Linked DNA regions of Homo sapiens: region 2 is linked to region 1. Evidence: fine-mapped QTL for protein levels in blood plasma. A gene starts in region 1. The other region holds a variant in brackets. All regions are shown on one strand. Distances are from middle to middle. Region 1 holds the start of IL18R1 (interleukin 18 receptor 1). Region 2 overlaps IL18R1 (interleukin 18 receptor 1).

Region 1 (5,000 bases):
AGAATATTATATATAATATAATATATATTTTATATAGAATATTATATATAATATAATATATATTTTATATAGAATATTTTATATATATAATATTATATATATGTATTTGAGACAGAGTCTCCTATGAACATACTTGTGGACTTATGATTTTATTTTGACACTTAAGAGTGGTCATAGGGTAGGTGCATATTTAACTTTCAGAGAAACTTATACATTGTTTCGCAAACTAATTGTACTACTTTACATTCCCACCAGTTGTGTATGAGAGCTCTGCTGCTTCATTGCCTCACCAATAATTGGTGTTGTCAAGTTTCTTTATATTTTAACAATTTTCACAGGTGTTAGATGAAGATCACCATGGTCTTAACTTGAAGTTCCCCGACTCATGATGATGAGCCCTTTTCATGTTTTCATTGGCCATTCGTATATATTTTTTAGTGAAGGCAAAATATTTTGCCTTATTTAAATTGTATTTCTTTTTATATTGTTGATGTGTAGGAATTATTTATGTATTGTGGATGCAAGTTCTTTGCCAGATAGATGTAAAGTGAGAATATTTCCAGGGTTATCTATTCATTTTTAAGTGATGTCTTTGTTTAGTAGACATTTTTAATTTTGGTGATGTCCAATTAATCAATGTGTCCCAAATGGCTATTTTTTTTTGTGTCCTAGCTAAGAATTTTTTTTTTTTGCCTGTCCAAGAGCATGATTTATTTATTTATTTTTTGCCTGTTCAAGGGTCTTCTCTGTATTTTTATGAAATATTTACGGTTCTAGCTTTTATGTTTAGGTCCATGGTCTATTGTGAATTGATACTTGTATATAGAACAAGGCAAGGACAAAGTTCTTTTTTCTGCTGCTGCTTCTTCTGTAGAGGTACCCAGCTGTTCCAGCAATGTTTGTGAAAGACTGTTTTTTCCCCACTGAATTGACATGGTGCTTTGTTAAAAAAATCAATTGACTAGATATGTGTGGATCTATTAGTCTACTTTCTATTTTGTATGTTTGTATGTTTCTGTGAATATCACATTGCCATAATTACTATTGCCTTATTATAAATCCTCAAGTCAGTATAAGTCTCTCAACTTTGTTCATCTTTGTCAAGATTGCCCAGACAGGCCGGGCAGGTGGCTCACCCCTGTAATTTCAACACTTTGGGAGGCTGAAATGGGTGGATCACCTGAGGTCGAGAGTTCAAAACCAGCCTGACCAACACGGAGAAACCCTGTCTCTACTAAAAATACAAAAGTAGCCAGGCGTGATAGTGCATGCCTGTAATCCCAGCTACTCGGGCGGCTGAGGCAGGAGAATCGCTTGAACCCGGGAGGCGGAGGTTGCAGTGAGCCGAGATCGCGTCATTGCACTCACTCCAGCCTGGGCAAGAAGAGCAAAACTCCGTCTCTGTCCGGACAATCCTAGATTATTTGCATTTTCATATGAATTTTAGAAACAGCTTCTTAATTTCTTTGAAAAATTTTCCTGGGATTTGGATTGAATTGTATTAAATATATAGATTCTGTAATATATAGAGTCTAAAAATATACAGTGTGGAGAATAGATGTCTTAAGTCTTCCAATCCGTAAACGTGGTATATCCCTTTATTACTTAGATGTTTCATCTCTGTTAGCAATATTTTGTAGTTTTCACAGGAGATATCTCATATATTATCCAATGAATTTATACTTTGGTATTTTGATTTTTAAATGCTATGGTAAATGGCATTTTTAACAAACTTCACTTTTCAAGTTTCCATCTCTAATATATAGAATTGCTATTGATTTTTATATTCCATGATCTTGATAAACTTAATATTTCCAGTAGTTTTTTTTTTTGTAGATTTCAAAAGTTGGTCTACATATAATTATGCTCTCTGTTAAAACCAGTAGTTTTAATTCTTTCTTCTCAATCTTTATGCTTTCTAATTTTATTTTTATTTCTTCACTTGTTGCAAAGCAGTTGTCCCAGGTGGGAGCCAAAATCCTTATCTCATTACTAATCTTAGGAAAAAGTAAAATGTTTCACTATTATGAGGTCACCTGTAGGTTTCTTATAGATGTTCTTTATCAGATTAAGAAAGATCATTTCTACTCTCGGTTTTCTGATCGTTATTAATTCAGAAAGGGTGTTGAATTTTGCCAGATGCTTTTATTTGCATTTATTGAGATAATTACATATTTTTATTTATTATGTGGTGAATTATCTAAATTGGGTAAAAAGAATTAAAATCATTGTCCAATTGAACATTTTGCCTGTCGGCTATGGGTTTCCCTTTTCCTTTGGTTAAATAACAGTTCTGCCACAAAATAAAAATCTAGAAACACACATTCCCCTTTGGCCTCCTTAAAAAAAATTAAAACTTCAACAATTGCACCCCTCTCTATTACTTCCCTATAGTGAACTCCCATCCTTCTGGGAAAGCAAAAAGCCTGGGGCGCATTTGTGTACTTGAGACGCGGAGCCCCTCTCACCTTCGGCATCCCCCGGGGACCCCTCTTCCACCCTCAGCCCTCCCCTCCTCTTCCTCTGAAGAGCCGGGCGGCCGCTGCGGCCAGCGGTCCTCCCTCCTGGCATCCTCTGCTGTGAACCGCGGCCTGCAGGGTGCTTGCGAGCGGCCCGGGCGCGCCCCCTTCCGGCCCCGCAGGTCACCCGGCTACAGCCCGGGTTTTCCCGGGACCCGCGCCGCGCGGCTGGGCAGGAAGCGCCAGACGCCTGGGGCCCACGCCGTCCGCGGGAAAAGGGCAAGGCGCTGGGTTTTCCAGCAGCAACCTTTGGACCCCGCGATCCAGTAGCTCCGGTAACTCCACGCGGGGCGTCTGGGTGGAGGAGCCGGTCCTGGAGCACGGCTGCGAGGAGCACCCGGACCGGAGGGTCCCCAGACCGGGACCTCCGAGTCAGGGAGGATTCTACGCCAGGGAGCGCCCCAGACTGAGAGCGCCCCAGACCGCTACACTCCCGGACCCGGAGCTTCGCCCGACCGCGGGCAGTGCCCACCTGCAGCCTCCACCGGCCGGGGTTAGCAGCCAGGAGCTGCCAGACGCCTGACATTCTTCTTTCTGTTCCTACTTTTTTTCCTTCTTCTTCTTTTTTTTTTTTTTTGTAGCCCTCTCTGGGTGCCTTATCTCTTTAATCACACCTCTCTTTCACTTTCCACGGTAGTCAGGAGGCGGAGATCGCTGCTTCTCACCTACTTTCTGAACTTGGCCTCCGCAGTCGCGACCTGGCGTGAAGGAGGAGCTGCCGCCCCCGCCCCAGCCTCGGGGACGCCTCTCTGAAGGTAAGGGTGGGCTCCGCTGCCACCCGCATCCCCTCCCCACCCCCCAGAGGAAGGGAAGACCACCATCCGGGGAGGGATTCTCAAAACAAGATCAATTAAGAGAGAGAGAGAGATAGTGTGTGTGTGAATACGTGTGAATAATTGATGAGACAGCATCCTGTCTTTCTCTGAAAGTATAGTTTTAGAAATTAAGACATCCCCAATTATTTTCTGGAGAGGTGAGAACGACTGAAATAAATGATAACAATAGTTGTCATTTTTTAAGTGCTTACTGTGTGCCTGACACTGTAGAAAATTTTTAGATATCTTATTTTCACTTAATCCTCCTAAGGGCCACATGAAATAGGAACTATTATTATGCTTTAATAAAAGGGAGGAGGAATTCCGTCATTTACCCAAGAGTATCCAGCTACTAAGTAGTAGATCCCAGATCCACACCTACAGTTTTTCTGATTCCAGAGCCTTTGTCTTTTTTCTGCCCAGCCTTGGGAAGTTAAAATGCCCAGCACCTTGCATCGCAGTTATCAGACAAATTAATGAGGTGTCAATTGCAGCCAGATACAGAGATCCAAGATTATTGTATTCATTTCACTGACTTCCCTTGCTTCATTCTCAAGACCCTTTGCAAATACTGATTTTGTGTCATACACAGTGCTGCTATTGGGAGCACACCTCTCAACCTCAGGGCCTTGGATGGGCTAGGAGGGGTAAATTTGGGGAATTGGGTTTGTGCAGGTTCTGGGGACAGTGTTTTCCCTCTCCCTGCACAAATATACATCCAAAGGCTGAGAACTAAGGCTAAGGCCTAGGAATGTGGATTGAAAAGGCAGGGTCTAAATCCCAGCACTTGGGAGGCTGAGGTGGGCGGATCATGAGGTCAGGAGATCGAGACCATCCTGGCTAACATGGTGAAACCCCGTCTCTACTAAAAATACAGAAAATTAGCCAGGCATGGTGGCATGCATCTGTAATCCCAGCTACTCGGGAGGCTGAGGCAGGAGAATCCCTTGAACCTGGGAGGCAGAGGTTGCAGTGAGCAGAGATTGTGCCACTGCACTCCAGCCTGGGCGACAGAGTGAGACTCTATCTCAAAAAAAAAAAAGAAAAAAAAGAAAAGGCAGGGTCCCTGCCTTCAGGGACCTCACCAGAGAGTGGGAGCTAGTCCAGGAGTGATGGAAACACCTGCAGAGTGATGGAGACGGGCTTGGACATAGGCATGTGCCATTTGGGGCTGTTGCAGTTGGAGAGCTTCCTTGAGAAGGCAAATACTGAGCCAAGTTGAAAGGACTCTAGGGACCTGGCATCTGGGATAAGTGGGGAGGGTGGCCCAGGTAGCACAGGCATAGGCAGATTTGGGGGGAAGCATAAGGCTAACAACAGACACTTGTGTGACAAGGACTATGAGGTGGCATTGATTTTCTTGGCCTTACAGATGAGAAGCCAGATTCCACACAAATTATTTTGTTTGTTAGAGTTTAAGCGTGTGTGTGTGTGTGTATGTTATGCCCCAAGATCATTTTCTCCTCTTTGCATTTGGTTGTTTTATCATCTCACAGGCTGAGTAAAACGACTATGCATGGAACACTGTAGAAGAAAAATTATATTAAAAAAAAACTGGTGTTATGATTTTCATCCAGGCATTTTGTCTCAGGAGTTGCTCGATTGTATGTGTTGCTAATGAGTGATTTATATTGAGGCATCTACATTGATTCATGTGTGTCCTTGT
Region 2 (5,000 bases), 29 kb after region 1:
ACCTGACCAGCACGGTGAAACCCCATCTCTACTAAAAATACAAAAATTAGCCAGGCATGGTGGCATGCACCTGTAGTCCCAGCTACTCAGGAGACTGAGGCAGGAGAATCTCTTGAACCCAGGAGGCAAGGTTGTAATGAGCTGAAATCACACCACTGCACTCCAGCCTGGGCAACGGAGCAAGACTCTATCTCAAAAATAATAATAATAATAACAATAATAAATTTAAAAATTCCGTGAGAGCACTCTGGAGAGATGAGTCAAACTAATTTTGTGGTGTGAATGTTTGATTAATTGATTCACTTTGAATCAATTGACTGAATTGATTGTATATTTGGAGTTTGTCTAGATAAGTCTTATGAATCAACATGTCCAATTGAGTAATTTCTTTCAAAAGAGAAAGGAAAGAAAGAAAGGAAGAAATTCACATATGCTAAATATGCTAAGCCAGGTATCATGCTAGGTCATTGAAATATATTGTTGAATTAAATCCTCCAAGCAACACTGAGGCATGTATTCTCATTTTATGAATTAAATAATTGAAGTGCAAAAAGGCTAAGTAACTTGTCTAAAGTTAAATCACTAAAAAGTGGCAAGTCTCTGTTTGGGGACTTTGCTTCCAAAGTCCCCACCTTATAACCACAGTTGGGGTCACAGTGGTTTATATGACCACATGGGCCCAGTGCAGCTGGGTCCTATGCCATTTGTACATGAGGTTTACCTGCTTTATATTTTTATTTATTTCTGTCTTTGTCTTTCTTATTTTTTTCTTCTACTCAGTGGGGCTTAACTTGTATCTTTTGTTCTAGTTTGTTGACCTGAAGAGTTAGATAATTAATTTTAATTATCCTCTGGTAGTATATACCTTCAAACTCCAAGTTTCCCTGTAAACACTACTTTAGCTGTTTCTCATATTTTCATTCTATTCAGTTTAAACCATTACTTAAAATTTCCCTTATGATTTCTTTTTCCAACAAAAAAAATTGGTATTTCTTAATTTCCAAATATTTGGTGAACTTTCTAGTTCTTGTCTCTTATTCATGTCCAGTTTAGATTCATTATAGTCCAAGATTATACACAGTGTCATTTCAACCTTTTGGAATTTGTAGTGACTTACTTAAGGCCCACAGTATGGTATATCTTGCTGAATGTTCCAAGTGCATTTGAAACAAAGGTATATTCTATAGGTTTTTGTTTTATTATTCTTTAAATGTCTATTTGGTTAAGTTCATTAATGGTGTTGTTCAAAAAATTTATATCCTGACTAATCTTTTATCTGCTTGTTCCATGTGTTGCTGAAAGAGATGTGAATATCTCCAGCTATTATGGTCAATGTGTCTCTATCTCCTTTAGTTCTGTCAATTTTTGTCTTACATAGTTTGGAGCTATCTTATATGCATACACGGATTTATGCTCGTTGAATTAACACTTTTATCATTATGAAATATCTCTCTTTATCTATCATAACACTTCCTCTCTCAATGTGTAGCTCTGTCATATGAAATAATCACACAAGTTTTCTTTTGCTTGGAATTGGCATATTTGTCTTTTTTTAAACATCCCTTTACTACTAACATTTTTTTTTGTTCTATACATAAGTGTCTCTCATAAACTGCATGTATTTGGGTCTTTTTTGAAATATGGTCAGTATGGTGTTTAGTCCATCTGTATATTTAAAATTACTGTTACAGTTGCTATATCATATATGCATGATATACAAATATTCAATTTATTCTTTTTAAAATAAATTACACTTTGTTGAAAATGACCATATTTCCATCCACTTGTTTATCTTTTCCTCTATTTTCTTTCAAACAGTTACAGTTTTTAATCTGCTAAATTCAGCATCTGTAGGTCTGCTTCTATTAGCTGTCTTTTCTATTGATTATGGTGCACATTTTCTGTGTCTTTGTATGTCTCTTAACTTTTTATTGTTGTTGATCTTTATGTATCAAACAATTAAAGTGAATACAGTTTGTGTTATTTTTTCTTACAAGTAGGTAGCCTGAGAGTTGAGTATCTCAGTTGACTCAGAATTGAGTTGGGGTGGCTGGGATGTAGGTATGTTCACTCCAATCTGTCTTCATCTCTGATAGCTGGTGAGGGAGGGGGTGCTGCAGTCATGTGTTTGATGCAGGCCTCTTCTCTAATGAGACTTGCTCTCCTGATTACCATGAGACTGCAAGTGATATCATACAGCCTTTACATCCTTTTACGCTGTCCGAGCGCTTAGCAGTAATTCTGCAAGCCTGTGCAGCTGCCGAGAGCTTCACTGGATTTTCTTGTTTCTATGAGACTCTTTCTGTTAATTACAAACCAAAGCAAATTCTTCCATGGAATGAAATGGCCACCTATCTTAGCTCACCCTAGAAAGGATCCTTCTTAAGTACGCTTGTAGTTCAAAAATTTCTCTTTATTTTCTCTGTACTTTGATGTCTTTAATGTTTGCTTAATTTAATTTTTTTGTGATTTATCCATTTGGTTTATCTAGAAGTCTCAGTGAGAGTATTGTCCTGATGCTACGAAAAGAAAGTACACTGATCACTCTAAGTTTTAATAGTTGATTAAAAAATAAATGTTTAAAAAGAAGCCAAATCATGTTTTGATGATGACTTGTAATTGCTACCTATTTCTTCTGCTTTATATATTTTGTTTTATTTAAAGCAAGGCATATTTATTCTCTTTCTGGGATGGAGCACCACGTTTTGCTTTAGGTTAACATACATTGATTATATTGTTTTGAAACTTTTAAGAAACCTGAGTTTCAAAAATCAGAACTTTAGTTGCCAACTTTTACCAGGAAAAAACGTAAGGCTCAACTGCTCTGCTTTGCTGAATGAAGAGGATGTAATTTATTGGATGTTCGGGGAAGAAAATGGATCGGATCCTAATATACATGAAGAGAAAGAAATGAGAATTATGTATGTATGTGTAATATATATGTCATGATATATACCATATAACAATCATATATATTATATATAACATCATATTAAAAACACTGGGTGGCTGATGTGTATTTTGGGCTAGTTTAAATTATAATTATAATGGACATATTTT[A/G]TAATTATAGTGGCCATACCCTAGGTGGACGCATTATGCAGAAATGTATTGCCAAGATCTAAGCTGGAAAAGAAGGTCCATGAGAAGGCCATTGAGGGTATTTAGCATCACCTTATAAAGTAGCACTTGGTCAGTCAGGATCCGATGGGGATGGGGATTTTACTTAGCTTCTTAGAAAAGGGCAGTTGCCTAGGCCAAGCTTTTTTTTATTTTGAAAAATTTGTTAAGTTGTTTATTTTTCTAATGGGCCAAAAAGGCTCCAAATGGCATGCATATTGATAGTTAAATAAGCCTATATTCTTCCATTAAGGAATGGTCAAACTTATAAAAAGAATCAGTCTAAACATATAGTCACCTAAGCTTTTCTGAATGACTTTGGGTCATACTGTAAGTATTCATTATTATACTGATACACTACTCAGGGTCTAGTGAGTGCTGAGCCTAAGTTGTCTACCACCTTTGCTGCACTTGTTGAGTTTTTTCTTCTGCTTTTTACACATTTTTTGGTACCTTCTTTGTTACCATGCTTGCAGCTCTACATTCTTGCTGACACTTGTCTACAAGCTCTTTACACCACAAAGTCTGGCTTCTTGCCCGGGAGCAGGCATGTGGTTCATGCCCACTACATGTTGAATTCATTTGAAATTTGTGGATCTCCTGCCATCATATCTCATCCTCAGCCACTGGCCTCCATTTGAGTTTTGTATTTCTCCCTTTGGATAATCTCTTTCTAATTTTTAGAGGGGTAGAAAACCACAGTGAATTTCTTAGAAATGCAGCTTAAGCTACAAAAGCAGAGAGGTCTTTCTTTATAGTTGGGTGCACACACCTTTGATATCATCTGTTTTGTCCTCTCAATGGCCTCCTGTGTTTTACTTCTGGATTTCATTGGTTTTAGATGGTTGTTATTTCTGGATGGGTGACTTAGGAAAAGAATTACATTCCAAAATGTACTTGAGGCAGTTGGAGGCTACAGTGGGGCTCTGTGTCCCGGGTCCTAGATATCCCTGTTGCTAGGAATGTGGGCACATGGGGCCCATGTCTGGCTGTGTTGACTGGTGTAGCTATCAGAGCCTGTCATTGGTGGGGGAAGTGGATGTCATAAGTGTTTACCTGGCATCAACCACAGGACAACTTGAATCCTTTAAGGAAGAGAAAAAGAACGTGCTGCCAGTGGCTTTCTCAAGTCATTTTCTGACACTCATGGAACAACTTAACTGGCACTTCTCATGTGCCTCGGGGTGCTTGAGAACAGTGTTATGTTTTTTAATGCTGAACACATTAAACCAGTTTGTTGGATTCCATGGACAAATGTAATACGAATCTGCATCTATGCTAAACAACTTACAGCCTTGTCATAATTAGTGGGAACCACTCTGTGGAAAGAACCCCAAGTTGTTAGGAAGAGAGAAGTAGAGAAAAATAATTGAGAGAGAATATTTTCTTATATTTTCAACTTAGCATCATGATCTTCCAGCCATTTAAACTTCAGGTAATTGACAGCACCATTCCCAAATGGCCTCAGGAGGGCTGTTTCTGTCAGTTCTGATGCTCCACGGAGGAGGGGACGTTTATTGTAGTCCATGCTTTAAGAGTACTGGCCAGAAAGGGAAGAAATAATGCAGGCAACATCACAGCTGCCTTCAAGCATTTTAAACATGTGAATTCCCCTCTCAAGGGTAACGAACAGAGCCTACTGCTAAATTATTTTGCCCTCTTACAGGACTCCAGAAGGCAAATGGCATGCTTCAAAAGTATTGAGAATTGAAAATATTGGTGAAAGCAATCTAAATGTTTTATATAATTGCACTGTGGCCAGCACGGGAGGCACAGACACCAAAAGCTTCATCTTGGTGAGAAAAGGTGAGAAAGATTTATTTTTGGAAGTTTTGAAACTTAGCTCATTGCTACTGAGAGACATTTCAAAGATGGCCACTTTC

The links. PIP is the chance, under the fine-mapping model, that this variant and not a neighbour inherited with it causes the effect. The UK Biobank Pharma Proteomics Project read protein levels with antibody pairs (Olink). The fine-mapping took linkage between variants from a reference panel, not from the people measured, so its PIPs are less certain.
Region 2: its variant is fine-mapped to the plasma level of the IL18R1 protein (UK Biobank, PIP above 0.99).

What each region holds. Positions count from the first base shown.
Region 1 is chr2:102,353,127-102,358,126 of GRCh38, forward strand. It overlaps IL18R1 (interleukin 18 receptor 1), which reads left to right and starts at 2,670. Exons shown (of 11, transcript NM_003855.5): 1 at 2,670-3,274. RefSeq lists an enhancer at 2,439-2,940 and silencers at 2,535-2,644, 2,665-2,724.
Region 2 is chr2:102,382,078-102,387,077 of GRCh38, forward strand. IL18R1 (interleukin 18 receptor 1) reads left to right here. Exons shown (of 11, transcript NM_003855.5): 7 at 2,801-2,921; 8 at 4,784-4,923. Among named protein-coding and RNA genes, the nearest start is that of IL18R1, 29 kb to the left of the region's middle. The variant A/G (reference allele first, on the strand shown) is at 3,061.